Linked DNA regions of Homo sapiens. The protein of the gene in region 2 purifies or fractionates together with the protein of the main gene of each other region. This does not show direct contact. Each region holds a gene or a part of one and is shown on either strand. Other genes may lie near its edges.

Region 1 (3,732 bases), on a different chromosome or scaffold from region 2:
CGTGATCCGCCTGCCTTGGCCTCCTGAAGTGCTAGGATTACAGATGTGAGCAAAACGCATAACTAAATGTTAATGGTCCTCTTTTCTCTCTACTCAGCCTATAATATGCAATGTAGCCTAAAAGGCATCCCTAGTATGGTTACCTTTTCTGAATGACCTTGTATGAGCTCCAGGAACTCAAGCCTCAATTTCTGTATCTGTGCATTTGTTCCCAGCTCTGCAACTGTATTACTTTAAGGATGAGAATAAAACTCCCAAACTTCGTGTCCCACTTGCTGTGAAGTTCTGGGAAGTACTGAGGTATCCCTGCAAGAGTGCAAGTGTGCATCTCTAGTCTATTGTAACTTGGCAGCCTGACAGGAGAAGCTCAGGGCCTCCTAAGAATATGAGAACCACCAGGATTTGTGGGCTTAAAGTAGTTAAAGCCGCTGAATGAAATAGCCAGTCTTTGGGCTCCCTCAAATCTTCCCAGGTTTCCCAATTAGAGAATGCATTCACCTGTGTGACTCACACAGGCAGTGCCACATCTGCAGTAGGATTAACTGGTGTCACAGCCCTTTCTATTCAGCATACTCAAAAGCCTGACACCTTCTGGGTTTTTTCATTGTTTCTGTTTGAACTCTCTCACTGCAGCTCTGTCAAAACGCCTTACAAATCCTTTCCTTGTGGCCTCCACCTTAGCCTTGCACCAGAATAGAGAGATGATAGACCCAGACAAGTTCTGCAGCCTCTGCCATGCAACTTTCAACGACCCTGTCATGGCTCAACAACATTATGTGGGCAAGAAACACAGAAAACAGGAGACCAAGCTCAAACTAATGGCACGCTATGGGCGGCTGGCGGACCCTGCTGTCACTGACTTTCCAGGTGAGGGGGCCTAGCTCACACCCAGAGCTGGACCAGGGTTTGGCCACTGGGGCTACCCGGACCAGCTGACGTTGTGCTTTTCCTCCTTAGGTCTTGTAAGTAGGGTTTGCGAACTCAGATGGCTACAGAAGCCAGATGAGAAATTAAAATGAGAGCCAGGAAGGGGATATGGTCAGCTGAAGAGTGAATGCCATTCCTACTCAGCTGTTACCATATCTTTCAGGTTTTCTTTTCTTTTTTTTTTTTTTTTTTTTTTGAGACAGAGTCTTGCTCTGTCACCCAGGCTGGAGTGCAGTGGCGCGATCTCGGCTTACTGCAAGCTCCACCTCCCAGGTTCATGCCATCCTTCTGCCTCAGCCTCCTGAGTAGCTGGGACTACAGGTGCCTGACACCATGCCCAGCTAATTTTTTTGTATTTTTAGTAGAGACGGGGTTTCACCATGTTAGCCAGGATGGTCTCGATCTCCTGACCTTGTGATCCGCCCACCTCGGCCTCCCAAAGTGCTAGAATTACAGGCGTGAGCCACCGCGCCCAGCCCTCTTTCAGGTTTTCAAAAGACTCTGGAAAGCCAGATTTATATAGAAATCCCTCTGTTTTTGTTTTTGCGTTTGTGTTTTTTGAGATGGAGTCTCCCTCTGTCACCCAGGCTGGAGTGCAGCGGCGCAATCTCAGCTCACTGCAGCCTCCACCTCCTGGGTTCAAGCGATTTTCCTGCCTCAGCCTCCCGAGTAGCTGGGGCTACAGGCACACACCACCACGCCCGGCTAATTTTTGTATTTTTAGTAGAGACAAGGTTTCACCATGTTGGGCAGGATGGTCTCGATTTCCTGACCTCGTGATCCGTCCGCCTCGGCCTCCCAAAGTGCTGAGATTACAGGCGTGAGCCACTGCACCCGGCCCCTCTGATTTTTAAATGTGTAACTAAATTAAAAAATTTTTAAGCCCAGCCAGGCATAGTGGCTTATGCTGTAATCCAAACACTTTGGGATGCCAAGGTAGGAGGATCACTTGAGCCTAAGAGTTCAAGACCAGCCTGGCCAACATGGTGAGATCCCATCTCTACTAAAAATTTTAAATATTAGCTGGGCATGTGGCGCATGTCTGTAGTCCCAGCACCTTGGGAAGGCTGAGGTGGGAGGATAACTTGAGCCCAGGAGGTCAAGGCTAAAGTGAGATATGATTGTGCCACTGTATTCCAACCTGAGTGAGAGCGAGAACATGTATCAAAAAAACAATTTTTTTTTTTTTTTGAGACAGTCTCACTCTGTCTCCCAGGCTGGAGTACAATGACACCATCTCACCTCACTGCAACGTCTGCCTCCTGTGTTCAAGCGATTCTTATGCCTCAGCCTCCTGAGTAGCTGGGATTACAGTTATGTGCCACCCCACATGGCTAATTTCCGGCTAATTTTTTTTGTATTTTTAGTAGAGACAAGAGTTTCACCGTGTTGGCCAGGTTGGTCTCGAACTCCTGACCTCAAGTGATCCACCCGCCATGACCTCCCAAAGTGGTGGGATTAGAGGCATTAGCCACCAAGCCCAGCCAAAAAAAAAAAAAACTATTTTTAAACCCTGTGTAAGTCAGACCTGTCTGCAAGCCAGATTTGGGCCAAGGACCCTTAGCGGATTAGATCAGAATCTCATGTTCTGATAGTTCTTACTTTGTACCTCCACAAAGGTGAACCCCTGAGAGAGAAAAGGTTGCTTCCTATCAGCAGAATTTAGACCCCTACATTAAAGTTTTGCCTCCCCCATTCTTTGGTTGTGGTTATGTTAAGGAGATACTGGTACTAAGAAAAACTACTAAAACTACACGTACACATGGTCCCCAACTTCCTATGGTTCAGCTTTATGATTTTTTTCAACTTTACGATGGTGTGAAAGCAATAGATGTTGAGTAGAAACTGTACTTCTCTTGCACTGCTAGGCAGCAATTGGTAATAAGTTTATCTAGATGTAACCCCATTGTAAGTCAAGGAACATCTGTAGAGTGAGAGAAAGCATGGAAATCTTCTGCTGACTTGCAGGATCCATTCACCACTCATTGGTAAAGGATGAATTCCTTGTTTTTACCTTTTTTTTTTTTAAGAGGGTCTCTTGCTGGATGCAGTGGCTCACGCCTATAATCCCAACACTTTGGGAGGCCAAGGCAGGTGGATCATAAGGTCAAGAGGGCGAGACCATCCTGGCCAATATGGTGAAACCCAGTCTCTACTGAAAATAGAAAAATTAGCTGGACGTGGTGACACACGCCTATAGTCCCAGCTACTTAGGAGGCTGAGGCAGGAGAATTGCTTGAACCCGGGAGGTGGAGGTTGCAGTGATCCAAGATCGCGCCACTGCACTCCAGCCTGGCAAAAGAGCAGCAAGACTTCATCTCAAAAAAAAAAAAAAAAAAAAACAGGGTCTCTGTATGTTGCCTAAGCTGGTCATGAGCTCTTGGGTTCAAGTCATCCTTCTACCTTGGCCGCCCAAAGGGCTGTGATTACAGGCATGAGCCGTTACACCCAGCCTGCTGTTATCAAGTATGCATTTAAGTCTTGCCCAAAGTATTTGTGTATTTTGGTACTTTTAATGCTGTTTTAAAATGAACATTCCTTAAAGTTGACTGGACCATTTCTAATACAATAAGGATAATTTTAAAAGACCTGGAAGAAATTCAGTTTTCATGAATATTATACTGTTAAGAGAGGGAAAAAAATATCGACCTTGATGAGTTTTTCTTACATGTGTTCTTGTTTGCTATGAATTCATTGGGAGAAAATATTTGCTGCCTTTTTACTGTGCATTCCAACTGTATTCTTAAAACATTTCAAAATGTATGTATATTTTAACATTTTGTGACATACTAACATGTTTTTAGA
Region 2 (3,500 bases):
AAAGACCAGTGGTTTTCCATTGTCTTTAAAATAAAATCCAAATTCCTCCCGTAGGTTATGTGAGATCTAGCCCCTCCGTCATCCTACTTCCTTCATTCCTTAATTTGCAGAAGCCACCCTGGGTGCCTCTGAGGTTTCCCAGTACACTGAGTTTTTTCCCACCTTCGGGTCTTTGCACTTGATCTTTCCTTACCTGGAAAATCTTACAGATGAGTGCTAATTGATGCAGAGGACTTAGAGTCCTCCCCCATGTTGCTTTGTGAAAGTATTTAATGGAGAGAATCATCAACTCAGAACACCTGCCGTAGGCATCTGTGAGTTTTGTAGCAGTGCTCTGCTTCTGAGTATCAGTGAGAGGAATGTTCTAACTCTCTGTGTTTAATCTCCACAGGGTTTAGGGGCTCAGGAGCAAGGAGCCACAGATCATATTAAAGTTCAAGTGAAAAATAACCACCTGGGACTCGGAGCTACCATCAATAATGAAGTGAGCAGCAGTGTGTGCCTCCTGGGTGTCTTTGCATAATTGGCTTCAGTCTTGTAAATCTGAAAGTTGATTGGTTCATCTGCTTCTGACCATTGGTGCAGCACTTCTTTTTATTCACGTTTCCTCTTGAACACTGACGCTTTGAATGCATGGCACTATAACTCAGAGTCAGTGGCCTACCGCGCTTTTTATTTTTAGTATCATTGTTCCCTTTTGGAAAGGATCTAAACTGAAAAGTTTTGTTTCTAAGTTTTTGCAGCCAACATAATCTGGTAGGGAATCTGGGAAATTACTTTAGGTAAATTGAATTACTTTGGTTAGTTCCGTATCTCTGAGTAGTGGATTGGCGGAGCTAAAATTTTTAGCCACTAAAGAAAGAGTTTATATAAAGTTGATTTCAAATGTAGTTGTTGAGGGATAGATAACACAGATATACTTATTTTCTTAGAAGAAGCATTGCCCAGTAAACCTATTTCATATTCCTTTACCTTAAGCATTCTTAAAAATTGCTAAGAATGTGAGTAAGGCAGATTCGTACACTGAAACCCTGCTTCCCACTGGTTTGGGAGATCTTCATTCTCTTATAAAAGCCAGGTTCATTTTTTTATAATAAACTTATTAGGTAACCACCTTACAAATGGGAACTCATCGATTCAGGGGACTTAAGGTTCTTCCTCCTCCCCTTCCTCAGAGTTTTGTAAAATTGGAGTTGATGCAAGTCATTAGAAGATTTTAATTCTACCAAGCAAAGAAGAGCATTTTTTTGTCCCGCATGGTTCTTGTCCTTTCAACTATGGAATTTCCCCTAGTGAGAAAAAAATAGTCATTTCATTATGTTTTACTTTAACATTTAGCACACAGGTTGCCTGTTGATTATTTACTATATATTGACTTGATCGATAAGTCATTCACATTTGAAATCAGGCCTTAAGCTTCCAGGAAGCCCCTTTTTAATATTGACCTGGATAAAGAGCATTTTAACTTTATATTATTTCTTGAATCCACTTAAATTTATCAAATAGTATTTTGATGGAACATTTAAAATTTCTTAATTAACCACTGGATTTCCTTGATTCCAAAATGTATCATCTCAGTCAGTGTAAGTAAACTACAGGCTTACCTCTCGTTCATTTCTTTGATATTTTCAGGACAACTGGATTGCCCATCAGGATGATTTTAACCAGCTTCTGGCCGAACTGAACACTTGCCATGGGCAGGAAACCACAGGTAGGGAAATCAGATGACATAAGTTCTCAATGCAAATATGTTTATCTACTTTTTGTTTTTTGCTTTTATTATTTTTAGTTGACACATAATTATACATATTTATTGAGTATAGTGTGATATGTCAATACCTGTGCACAATTTGTAATGTACACATGTGTTATGTTCATCAACGTAATTAGCATATATATCACTTCAGACATTTATTATTTGTGTTGGGAGCATTTAAAATCTGTTCTTCTAGCTATTTGAAAATATAAAATAAAATATTATTTATTATAGTCACCCTACAGTGCTATAGAACACTAGAGCTTTTTCCTCTTATGTAGTGGGACTTTTATATCCATTAGCCAATCTTTAGCTGTTCCTACATAGCTGTTTTCCTTACGCAGCTCTAATAACCACTATTCTGCTGTCTACTTTTATGAGCTCAACTCTTTTAGCTTTTCCATATGAACGAGAATATGTGATATTTATCTGTGCCTGGCTTATTTCACTTAATGTCCTCCAAACTCAACCATGTTGCCTCAAATGAAAAACTCTCATTCTTTCGTAAGGGTAAATAGTATTCCGTGGTGTGTATGCACCACATGTTTCCCAGTTCATGTGTTGGTGGACACTTAGGTTGATTCCATATCTTGGCTGTTGTGAATAGTGCTGCAGTGAACGTGGGTTTGCAGGTACCTCTGCAACATGCTGATTTCCTTTCCTTTGGGTAATGCCTGGGAGTGGATTGCTGGATCATATAGTAGTTCTATTTTTAACTTTTTGAGGAGCTGCCGTACTGTTTTCTGTAGTGGCTACATCAACAGTGCATAAGAGTTCCAATTTCTCCATATCCTAACCAGTAATTATCTTTTATAATTTTGATAATAGCCATCCTAATGGGTGTGAGATGATGTCTCATTGTGATTTGGATTTCCATTTCCCTAATGACTGATGTTAAGCATCTTTTCATCGCTTATTGGCCATTTTTATATCTTCTTTGAAGAAGTGTCTAAGTACTTTGCCCATTTTTTAATTGGATTTTGTTGTAATCTGCAAGCATTTTTATAAACATTCTTGTTTATGAACAGTCTATTCCTTGTGTGTCATGTGTGAATAATCAAAAGATATTTGGTAGATTGAAAGAATTTTGTGGAGTGAAATAATGAATTAGACTTGAGTTCAGCAAACATTTATTGAGCTGTGTGCTGGGTACTAGTTTAGGTGTGAGGATCTGCAGAGGTATAAGACACAGTCCTGCTTGGAGGTAGCTAGCAGAATATGCTGGTAATTACCTGGTAAAATCACAGCACACATCTAACCATAGGAAGGTTTATTGCAGTGACGTGTGTGGAAGTGAGCCCAACAGTGTGAAGGGAAAGGTGCTTTGTTGGTATTTTTTCTAACCAGATTGGACTTTTTGTTGGAATGTATAACTTGGACAGTTTTCCTTATCCATAGGATCATGATTTTGAAATAACCTAACAGTTCTGTGTGTGGTCCTAATATGAAGGGCAATAATTTATTAGCAGAAGAAAAAGATAAGGAAAATGTTTTCTGAAAATACTGAATGACTCATATTAGGAAATGCAGGATCTATGAAGTAGTAAAGTTCAAGGACACTATTCCTTACTAATTATACACAGAAAACATCTTGATATTTACGATCACAGTTGAACTCAGTAGAAACACAGATAAGAATGTAAGCTTGGCTGGGCACGGTGTAATACCAGCACTTTGGGAGGCTGAGGCGGGCGGATCACCTGAGGTCGGGAGTTTGAGACCAGCCTGACCAACATGGAGAAAC
Region 3 (3,732 bases), on a different chromosome or scaffold from region 2:
TAGTTCTCCATTAATTACTCCAGGAAAAATATAACTAAGAGTGTAAAATGATATTTTTACATCAAGAATCAAGTCACTTGAAAATTCAAATTAAAAAGTTGATTATATACAATGATTCCAAGTAAAATAATATTAAAGAAAGAATAAAACTATTGAAACACATTCTAATGCACTCCTCCAACTCTTTTCATTTGCTCTACAACTACTGAGGCACACACTGGTGTCATCAGAATATAAAGATGAATACAGGATATAAAGATGAACAAAACTTTGAACTATTCTAAAGATATATCCAGTTGGGTAGAGATAACAGATATAAGAAAGAATCCTATATATGATTAATGCTGCACCAGCAGCAAGCTCTCCATGCATTGACAGCCCAGGAAATGAGTGATTCTGTATGAGACATGATGACAAAAGGGAGGTGTCATGTCAGGCAGGTCTTCCTAGAGCTGGCCCTTGAAGGATAAACTGCCTTTTGATTAGTCAGGCAGGAATCCCTTTTTAATGAGTTAAATAAATGATTCTGGCTTCTTCCACTTGGATAGCAAGTAATAACAAAAGACTATTTACCTAATTAGATCTAAGCTTGCCACCATTTATTTTAGCTAACACTGATAAACTGATAAGCACTTTACTACCTGCCACTGCTTTTTTTGGGGGGATCAGGGTCTTGCTCTGTCGTCCAGGCTGAGGTGCAGTGGTGCAACCTTGGTTCACTGCAGCCTGAAGCTCCTGGGCTCAAGCAATCCTCTCACCTCAGCCTCCCAAGTAGCTGGGACCACAGGCATGCGCTGCCACACCTAGCTTTCCTTTTTTTTTTGGTATTTTATGTAGAGACTGGGTTTTGTCATGTTGCTCAGGCCGGTCTCGAACTCGTAAGCTCAAGCGATCTGCCTGCTTTGGCCTCCCAATGTGCTAGGATTACAGGCATGAGCCTCCACACCTGGCCTGTGCCACTGCTTTAAACTAGTTACATGCATCATTCATACTGTTGTGGTGGTAGGTACTATTATTATTCCCACTTGGAAGAATGGTGAAATTGAGGCACAGAATGTGTCAGGAACTTACCAAAGGTCATACAGTTAGTGCAAGTGGCAGAGTCAAGATTTAAAAAAACCCAGCAGCCAGACACTGAGCACATGCTTTTAATGTGGCAGTACAGTTTAACACAAATAATATCTATCTCAATGAACTGCTATAAGGGTTGAATGAGATAAGGTAAATACTTATAAGTTAATGTAAGACAGCATTACTTCTTGCTTTTTTTTTTTTTTTTTTTTGAGATGGAATTTCGCTCTTGTTGTCCAGGCTGGAGTGCAATGGTGGGATCTTGGCTCACTGCCACCTGCACCTCCCAAGTCCAAGTGATTCTCCTGCCTCAGCCTCCCAAGTAGCTGGGATTACAGGCATGAGCCACCACACCCGGCTAATTTTGTATTTTTAGCAGAGGAGGGGGTTTCAGCACATTGGTCAGGCTGGTTTCGAACTCCCGACCTCAAGCGACCCACCCACCTTGGCCTCCCGAAGTGCTGGGATAACAGGCGTGAGCCACCACGCCCGGCCACTTCTTGCTCTTTCATTTGTTAGGCTTTTGAGCGCTTTTCTATGGTTCAGGATGCCTCAATGAGCATGAAATTCCACGGTTTCATTTTTAAGGAAAGAAAGGAAACTGGCATTTATTGAGGACTTTCAATATGCCACAATCACTTTAAAGGTATTACTCTAATAACTGCCTTAACTATCTTGAAGGATTTTTACTTGTAAGACTCAAAGTAAATTATCATGCAGTATACAAAGGGGAGGTACTATTCAATTAATTCAATACTTAAAACCCAATTTCCATTACATTAAAAAAGGTATGTGGGAATAGAAGGTATAAAAATTAAAGGACTCCACCTCCATGGGAACCTGTCCTTTGTCATAATTAAGAATACCCTCTCCCATTCACTCATTCATGTTCATTCAGTAACATCTATGTGGGCCTACTATGAGAGTGGTATCTTGCTACTGGAATGTACGATCCCCATCTTAAAAGAGCTCAATAGTCTAGTTTCATAAAACATCTTAAGTCCTATAAAGAAATTCATATGCTATCTCAGCATCGTTTCTTGGACATGTGCAGAAATGCAGAGAATTTAGTTGGTACACACACCAACTTCCCATTACAAATTAAGTAGGCCAACTCACAAAGTCTTAGGTTGGTCCAATAAAGTGGCCACTAGCCACATGTGACTTAACGAGTCCTTTAAATGTGGCTAGTGTGACTGAGGAACTGTATTTTCATTTAATTTTAATTAACTTAAATTCTAAAAATTTATTCTTATCCATTACTGGAAAACTTGTAAGTAGGTCTGGAGCAACTTGAGTATATGAATCTACTTTTTCAAATGTAAATTTTATCATATCTAAATACAGATCAAGTATTTCCAATGAAAATTTAGCACCTGAATTGACACGTGCTTTCAGTGTAAAATATATACTGGATTTCAAACAATTTATATGTAAAATTTCTCAATTTTTAAAAATATTACTAGAAAAGTTAAAAGTATATTAAAATATTACTAGAAAAGTTAAAAGTATATACATAGCTTGTATTTTCTTTCCATTTGACAACACTGGCCTAAAGATGAAATATTCTTATAACTAGAGTATTCCTCTAAAGATTTTTTTTTTTTGAGACAGGGTCTTGCTTTGTTGCCCAGGCTGGAGTGCAGTGGCGTGATCTCGGTTCACCACAACCTCCGCCTCCCAGGTTCAAGCAATTCTCCCGCCTCAACCTCTCAAGTAGCTGGGACTACATGCACCTGCCACCATGCCTGGCTAATTTTGTATTTTTAGTAGAGATGGGGTTTCTCCATGTTGGTCAGGCTGCAGATTCTTACAATGATTTGAGAATTCCTCAAAACTCCTGAGCTTCAACAACTGACTTCAAAGATTGCTCCAGGGCAAGTTGGAGAAGCCTTACCTGTATTTGCCTGTGCTGTGCTTTAGTGTTAGTTCTATTACTACAGGTTAAGTACCTTCCGGTACCAAGCATTTGATTTCAGATATTTTCAAATTTTGGAATATTTGCATATACATAATGAGATAGCTTGGGAATAGGACCCAAGTCCAAACACAAAATTCATTTGTGTTTCATATACACTTTATACCCATAGCCTGAAAATTATTTTATATGATATTTTAAATAATTCTATGTGTGAAAGTTTTGTCTGCATTTTGACTTGTCGCATGAGGTGAGATGTAGAATTTTCCATATGTTGGTGTTCAAAAAGTTTGGGATTTTAGAGAATTTTGGATTTTTAGATTAGGGATGCTCCACCTGTACATGAAAATAGCAACAGAAAAGTTGTGAAACCATTTTAAAATAAACACTAATTACATTTACAAGCTATTTTCTGAAAGCAAGCCAAGATAGAAACAAGGGTAGGAAATTCATCCTTGCTTTCCTGTGAGAAGGCAAACAGAAATAACAACCTATGAAGTAATGTAAAAATGTTCAAAGGAGTAAACAATCTTCCTTTGATGTGATCCAAAAGCACAAACACAATGACAAATGACCTTCCAGGTGTAGAATGAACTTAAGTTTCTATCTTTCAAGCACTCATCTATGCCGTGCTGCAACAGACGTTCTCAGTCTTTTCACACCTTCAATTAGAGATTACTTTGTTAATTTTAAAACTTTAATTGCATTTTTTACTGAAATCAATTGCTTTTAAAAAATCTACG

What was found.
Region 1: the proteins of PINX1 (region 2) and ZNF346 purify together in Homo sapiens (co-immunoprecipitation; one large-scale study listed by IntAct). This does not show direct contact.
Region 3: the proteins of PINX1 (region 2) and DSTN purify together in Homo sapiens (co-immunoprecipitation; one large-scale study listed by IntAct). This does not show direct contact.

The regions. Positions count from the first base shown.
Region 1 is NC_000005.10:177,050,070-177,053,801, forward strand, and holds part of ZNF346 (zinc finger protein 346), read left to right. Parts: intron 1-633; coding exon of another isoform or gene 634-681; coding exon 682-867; intron 868-3,732.
Region 2 is NC_000008.11:10,829,876-10,833,375, reverse strand, and holds part of PINX1 (PIN2/TERF1-interacting telomerase inhibitor 1), read left to right. Parts: intron 1-391; coding exon 392-484; intron 485-1,632; coding exon 1,633-1,711; intron 1,712-3,500. UniProt on the Homo sapiens protein: Microtubule-binding protein essential for faithful chromosome segregation. Mediates TRF1 and TERT accumulation in nucleolus and enhances TRF1 binding to telomeres. Inhibits telomerase activity. May inhibit cell proliferation and act as tumor suppressor.
Region 3 is NC_000020.11:17,576,513-17,580,244, reverse strand, and holds part of DSTN (destrin), read right to left. Parts: intron 1-3,732. UniProt on the Homo sapiens protein: Actin-depolymerizing protein. Severs actin filaments (F-actin) and binds to actin monomers (G-actin). Acts in a pH-independent manner.